2 linked regions of the Homo sapiens genome follow. The protein of the gene in region 1 interacts with the protein of each later gene in a pairwise test. Each region holds a gene or a part of one and is shown in the gene's direction. Other genes may lie near its edges.

What was found.
Region 2: the proteins of MAMDC2 (region 1) and EFHC1 interact in binary tests that used the Homo sapiens proteins (3 or more experiments, as listed by UniProt).

What each region holds. Positions count from the first base shown.
Region 1 is NC_000009.12:70,042,208-70,046,126, forward strand, and holds the start of MAMDC2 (MAM domain-containing protein 2 isoform 1 precursor), read left to right. Parts: upstream 1-1,640; 5' UTR 1,641-1,990; coding exon 1,991-2,024; intron 2,025-2,376; coding exon 2,377-2,490; intron 2,491-3,919.
Region 2 is NC_000006.12:52,437,234-52,441,052, forward strand, and holds part of EFHC1 (EF-hand domain-containing protein 1), read left to right. Parts: intron 1-1,070; coding exon 1,071-1,358; intron 1,359-3,819. UniProt on the Homo sapiens protein: Microtubule inner protein (MIP) part of the dynein-decorated doublet microtubules (DMTs) in cilia axoneme, which is required for motile cilia beating.

The sequences.
Region 1 (3,919 bases):
GGTGGAGCAGGTCCTATAGGGCCTGGTTGGTCATCGTGAAGACTTTGGACTTTACTAAATGACTTGGGAACTTGTTGGGTCTTGAGCTAAGGAGTGACATGGCCCAATTTCTGTATTAAAAGGATAACCCTGACTAGTGTGTTCAGAATAGAGTAGGGTGGGCAGGGCAGAAAATGAAGGGAGACCGTGGTCAGGAGGCCACTGCGGTATCCCAGGTTGATGGCAAGGGCAGCTTGGACCAACCAAGGCATCACCACCATGGGCACAGAGCATGGTCAGCATCTGCTGTGTTTTGAATCCTGAGCTGATAGAAATTGGCAATGTCTGACAGGAACGGATGAGCTGAAGATGCCTCCAAGTTTTCTCTCCTGAACAACTGGAGGAAAATAGTTCTTTTACTGAGATGAGGAAGACACAGGGGACGGGCAGGTTTGGCAAGAAATATGCAGCCTTCATGTTGGGACCTGTTAAGTATGAAATAGCTCTGAAGCATCCGATTGGAAATGTTGAGGTGGCAATGAGATCGAAGAGTCTGGCGTTAGTGAGTAGTCTGGGTTAGAAATATAAATGTGGGAGTTATCAGGCTATCATTGGTATCTAAAACTATGAGACTTGAGGACAGCATTGAGGGGCTGGATAGAGAAAGAAACAGGAGTGACAGGGAAGAACTTGGAGGCACTCTCATGTTAAGGGGTTACAGAGGTAACGCAAAGAGGCCGAGAAGCGGCGGCCAATGAAAGACCAGGAAACCCAGCGGTCTGGAAGCCAGGTGAAGGCATGGGAGCAGGTTGAACTGATGGCTCAACTGGAGTTTGTTAGGCCAGTGGTCCTCAAAGTATTGTTCCAAACCCGCTGCGGCAGCAGCAGCCTCTGGAAACTTATTAGGGACGTGCAGCCTCTCAGGCCCACTCCAGAGCTACTGGATCGGAAACGGAGGGTGAGGCCCTTCAGCAGATTCTGATGCACCCTCAGGTTTTAAAACCACTGCCCTCCTCACAAAATTGCCTGCACAAAATTATAAATGGGAGAAAGGAGGAGGAGGAGGAGGAAGAGGAGGGGAGGAAGAAGAACTCTTTACAAGAAAAGAATATTGTTGGAGACCCACTTAGTGCCCAAAGCAAACAGCTTCCTCAGAAGTAACTCCCTCCCCAACAACCCCCTCCCAGTGTAAAGCCTCCCATTAATCAATCTATCATGGCTCTTTGGAGAGAAGGAATGCCCCCATTTCACCGGACGGAGGGAATGCTGAGCACCAGGCATGCCAGACATTCCACCGGCTAAAAAAAGTGGGGGTGGTATTCCAGGGTTAGCATTGCTGGACCGTAAACGCTGAAACTCCTTAGATATAAAGCTTATTCCACCCAACCGTTTCCAAATTTTCCTCCAGGCTGTCCTTGGAGAATTCCACCCTCTTTCATTCTGGGGAGAAGAAGTTAAAATTAGGGCCAGCCCTGCGGGACTGACATGCCAGATGCAGGGAAGCTGTCCCCAGAAATAAGCGAGTTCCCACCGCGGCTGGGCGGGGCGGGAGCCTCGGGTCCCAACCCAGCGGAGGGACTCCTGGAAGGCCTGCCCCTTCCAAGTGTCTGCAAGGGCTCTGGTCCCAAGCTTTAAAATCCTGAGCGAAGGCACTGCGGGCCGACCTCTCCTCTCCCAGCCAGTCGTGGCTGGCCTTTCAAAGTGTGCAGTTGTCTCCTCCCTGTCCAGCCCCATCGTCGCCCAGGACCAGCTGGGCCGCGGTCTGACCTGAGGCTGCTGCTCAGCGCCGGGGCGCTGGCGCTCTCCATTCGAGCACCTTCCAGCATACCGCTCGGCTCCGGGAGCCGCTCTGCAAAGTTGGGCAGCTCAGAGCGCAAGCTTTGCCTCTCGACTTCTCCCTCCTTGGGTCCCCGGCGCCCCCGCCTCCCACGATCCCTTTCACTAGGAGCAGCCAGTCCCAGCGGGCTGGCAACTTGCACCCCTTCCTAGTCATCCTCCCTGAAACGCGACCATGCTGTTAAGGGGCGTCCTCCTGGCGTTGCAAGGTAAGGCCTGGACCCCGGGACAACCCCGGGGGCGCTCTGACGACTCGCCCCCGCTCCTGCTGCCCCCGGGGGTCCGGCTCACCGTGCTGGGCTGGGCCATCCGAGGGCGCCTCCTGATCCTCCGCAGCCGCTAACTCCCTCCCCTGGCCAAGCCTGGGGTGGGGGTGGGGGTGGGCGTGGGGTCGCTCAGTGGAGGCGCCCGGGGATGCTGGGGGACAGGTACTGCATCCCTCTCCCGCCCCCTCCCGCTCGTCTTTCCCCCACTTTCACCAGGTAGTCCCCCTGGGGCTCCCCGAGTTGGTGCAAAGGCTCCTGGGTGGAGCTCGAACTGAAACTCGCTTTGTGCCCGCAGCCCTGCAGCTCGCCGGTGCCCTCGACCTGCCCGCTGGGTCCTGTGCCTTTGAAGAGAGCACTTGCGGCTTTGACTCCGTGTTGGCCTCTCTGCCGTGGATTTTAAATGAGGAAGGTAAGGAGGCTCGGTGGAGAGGGGCGCGAAGTGAACTTTCTTCCTTGATGGCTTGCTTTTTTTTCCCACATGGGTAATGTTATCTTGGAGTTAATTCTCCGCGGCAAGAAAAGTGTGAGTCATGGATCCTCCTTCAAGCCCTCAGCTGTGCTGCAAGGGATGGCCGAGGCAGGAACGGGGCGGGCGGGAGGCCGCCCTTTGTTTACCTGGCCTATGGGTAGAAGCTTAAAATTTGCGTCTCACCCCAGCACTCCTTAATGGAAGGGAGAAACGGAGCACAGCTAATGATTGTTCTCCGCTGTGGGCCTCTGCAGGCACACCAGCTGTGTGCCTCTGCAGGCCAGCAACCTTTCTGGTCCTCAGGAGACATGTCTGTGAGTTGGGAAAAGTTGCATGGGACTAGTTCTCCTTCAGCTTTGCAGAAATGGTTCCACAATTCTGTGATGGGACGTCAGTGCTAAGACATCACGTCTGCCTTGACCCTGACAGTGTTTTTTGCTGCATGATTTCATCCTCACACTCCTGTTTGTAATCCTGCCCTGGACAAAAGAAACCATGTACACTGCCAAATGCCTGGGGTCCCTGTCTCACTGGTGGTCATTGTCTTACTACTCTATACTGTTTGGGTCCCAAGGACAAAGTTTAAATGTGGGGTCTTCTGAAGTGTCATCTTGCCTTTATATAGTTTTTTTTGTTTTTTGTTTTAAAGTGTGGTTCTCAGTACCCAATGGCAGGCGGCACTGGGTGTCCCTTCTTTCCTTTCTCTCTCTTTTGTCACCACCAGTGAAGCCTGATGCCCACAGACTATTTGGATTGGAAAATAGCCTTCTTTAAAAAACATGGTACCCTAGATGAAACCAGCTCACCTCCTTCCCCACTCAATTGTCCTCAGGCCGCAGATCCTCCCACCTCGCTCCCTGGGGGAGGATGGAGCCCGGAACCCCTGGTTAGATGTATGAACTGTCACCACAGCTCACTCTGCCCCAGGCTTCTACTCAGGGTTCTGCATACATTAGCTTCTCTGACCCTCACAGGTAGGTGATGTTGGACCCGTTTTACAGAGGAAGGAATCTCAGCCATAGAATATTCAAATGGCTAGTCCATATCACAGTGTCACTGAGTGGCTAACTCTGAGTGTCTAGTTAGGAAGAAACAGGAAGGAACTGGTTCAGTAGTAATCTCCATCTTTATCCAACAATTGCCAAGTCTTGACTACTACAGTCTACTTAGGGGTGGCTGGGAAAAAGCAATTCTTGATTTATTATTCGAGGGATTCCTATCTTGCTGATGGCTTTAGGAAAGTCTCTGTAATCTTGCCACTCACCCTTTCCCTATACTGGCTGTATGGAAGCATTGCGGGAGATGGCCTTAGAAATGCCACGAGACTGGCTTTGGAGAGCACACTCCTCCAGCACGGGGCTTCTCAAAC
Region 2 (3,819 bases), on another chromosome or scaffold:
TGCAATTAACCCTTCATTTTCAGTTTGAAACCAAAAATCGCAATCTTATCCAAGATTTTTTACTCTTCCCAGAAGTTCTGGGAGGGACTTTTGACATGGAGGTGAAGCTAGTAGAGTTAAGTCCTTTAAGATGTATTCTCACCAAGGAACATATGCAATAAATAGTTTATACACATTGTGAGTATTTAAAGCAGATGTCAGCAAACTTTTTCTGTAAAGGGCAGTTAGCGTATATTTTGGCCATTGCAGTGGTTTTAGCCTGCGTAGTCTGCCACAACAAAATACCACAGATTGAGTGGTTTAAATAATAGAATTTATTTTCTCACAGTTCTGGAGGTTGGAGGTCCAAGATCAAGGTGCCAGCTGGTTTGAATTCTGGTGAGGGCTCTCTTCCTGGCTTGCATACAGCGGTCTTCTTGCTATGTCTTCATGTGGCCTTACCTTGGTGTGTACATGTGGGAGTTAGGGGAGGGAAGTAACTCTCTTTCTCTTCTTCTCTTCTAAGGCAACCAGTTCTATGGGATTAGACTTAAAGGTGGCATACCTCTATCCTTAAGATCTGGTTTAACCTTAATTACCTCCTAAGGATCCTGTCTCCAAATATAGTCACATTGAGGGTTAGGGGTTCAACATATGAATTTTGGGGATGAGGGGGACACAATTTAGTCTGTGTATCTCTGTCACAACTATTCAACTCTTCCCTTGTAATGGGAGAGCAGCTGTTAACAAAAAAGCGTAAATTATTTACATAATTATTTGTGGATTGAAAATTTAAATTTTTATAATTTCCATGTGTTATGAAACATTTTTTAAAATTTTTTAAACCATTTAAATATGTAAAACCCACTCTTAGCTTGCAGGTCATAAAAAAAACAGGTGGCAGGTTAGATTTGTCCCATGGACTATAGTTTGCAGTATCTGTAGTTTTAGAGTATCAAGATTTACAGGATAGAAGTGATGAGTGTTAAAATCTCCCTGTGTGGTTCTGTTTTCAGGAAGGTACTTGATATTTTTCAGATGACTATGACAAGCTAATAGTACACCATTTCTCCTTTCCTTGTATGTTATAGGTACTGAAATTTGATGCCTATTTCCAAGAAGATGTTCCTATGTCAACTGAGGAACAGTATAGGATCCGTCAGGTGAACATTTACTATTATCTAGAAGATGACAGCATGTCTGTCATAGAGCCTGTTGTAGAAAATTCTGGAATCCTTCAAGGCAAGTTAATAAAACGCCAGCGGCTAGCCAAGAATGACCGGGGTGACCATTACCATTGGAAAGACCTAAATCGAGGAATAAACATCACAATTTATGGCAAAACTTTCCGCGTTGTTGACTGTGACCAATTCACACAGGTATAGCATATATTTTTGAAAGTTGTGGGGTCTGAGGCATCATTCTAATTTATAGAAGGATACATTTCATTTATTAGGGTAAGGGGAGGACATTGGTAATCTGTCCTGCATGAATTATTATGAATGGCTAGGTATTTGCATGTGTGTATGTGCTAATATGTGCCAACACTAATAGTAACATAATTTTTTCAGAATGATATTAATACTTATTCACTCAAAATCAAACTCTCATCATAGCTGAATAATTTGGTAAGAAACCAGGTTAAAATGGCAGTTCAAACAGGGAGTAGGGGAATAGCATCCCTGCTGGGATGTAAGTATGGAAGAGGGATTAAACGTTTTATCTTAAGTGTGAGTTTACAAAAATAGCACTACTTCTATTAGCAGATATGAGCCTAAAATTTTTTGTGTAGCTCATATATTTTTGGTAAATGATACTTGCTATATTCTAGGAAAGCTTACCATCTAAAGAATTTCTGAAATGAAACCATTTTTAAATGAAAAAACCTCTTCTATATGTAAAAAGTCCTCTATTTCGTAAGTTTGGATTTTTTAATACAAAGGAAACTTTTATTAAAGTTACATGCATAGAGGATATAGGTGGCCTTTCTTTACTACAAAGTGTAGGAATTAGGAAGTCAATTCCAAATTTGTCTTAGTTAAAAAAATATTTCTAGCAGCAAAGATATAGTTTCTGAAGTATTTTATGTCCCTATTCCAGGATACCTAGTGCCATATGTGACTAATTTTTACCATGCACTGAGCTCCTATGAATCCATTATTGTTTTCATTTAGTAGTTTGTTTAACAGATATTTATTTGCATGCCTGCTTTGTTCCATGCACTGTTCTAGGTGCCAGATGTTTTCAGGAAGGTACTTGATATTTTTCAGATGACTATGACAAGCTAATAGTGCACCATTTCTCCTTTCCTTGCATGTTATAGGTACTTGCCCCTATAGAGGTTCCAATCTTGTTGGAGGAGATAAGCAATAGCAAATAAATAGATTGGTTATATGTCAGATGATGATAACAGCAATGGAGGAAAATAAAGCTGAGTAAAGGGAATGGAAGTTGAGGGGCTCTTTATAGAGGCGGATCAGAGAATGCCTCAGTGATAAGATGACATATGAATAGAGGCCTGAAGGAAGTAAAGAAAGGAGCCATGGCATCAGTGCCATTCCAAAGCAATAGAGAAAAATAGCTTCAAAAGTAGAGGTGCTAGACCATCTTTGAGATATTCTCCCGTTCCAACATATTTTTATCTCTTTGCTTTTTAGGTGTCTGAGGTCTTATATATCATAGGCAGTTTCACAATTGTACCAACAGTGAGAAATGATAAAATGTTATCTAAACATAAATGTATTAACAATTATTTTTACAGTTGTGTTTTCATAACAATTATTTTTACAGTTGTGTTTTTATGGGCAATTTGAACATTTGCAAGTTAATCACTGAGCGTTTGACCTAATCTATTTATAGTCGGTTCTCATTATTGACAGTAATTAGGACTATAAAGTCACCACAAACACTGAATTAGTGAATACTGAACCACTAGTCTTAGAGGAAATACAGGGTTAGGTTCCCACTAATCTCTGGCCACATTTTTGTCAACTGATCAATACATAAGTTTGATTCATGTATGTTTCTGTTTAAAGACACCTTATTTAATATATACGGTTGATTCATTAACATTAAACTCACACCCAACAGCACTATAACTCACGTCTGAACAAAGCTTATCTAAGACATGCATTTTCTCCATGAGGTGTGTTACAGCCTTCTTGTGCTTAGGAACACTAAATAGCACTTCATCACTAGGCACTGGGACCCTTTAAACAGCAAAATCACCAACAAAAAACACAAAAATGCAAAAAATCTGGCACCTTCATGTATATGTATATGTATGTGTATATGTATCACATTTTCTTTTTCCAGTTTACCATTGATGGGCATTCAGGTTGATTCCATGTCTTTGCTATTATGAATAGTGCTGCGATGAACATACTTGCGGGTATGTCTTTATGGCAGAATGATTTATATTCCTTTGGGTATATACCCAATAATGAGATTCCTAGGTCAAATGGTAGTTCTGTTTTCAGGTCTTTTAGGAATCACTACACTGCTTTCTACAATGGTTGAACTAATTTATACTCTCATCACCAGTGTATAAACATTTCTTTTTCTCCACAACCTTGACAGCACCTGTTATTTTTTTACTTTTTAATAATAGCCATTCTGACTGGTGTGAGATGATATTTCATTGTGGTTTTGATTTGCATTTCTCTAATGATAGTGATGTTGAGCTTTTTTTTCATATGGTTATTGGCCATGTGTATGTCTTCTTTTGAGAAGTGTCTGTTCATGTCCTTTGCCCACTTTTTAATGGGGTTCTTTGCTTTTTTTCTTGTAAATTAAAGTTTCTTATAGATGGTGCATATTGGACCTTTGTCAGATGCATAG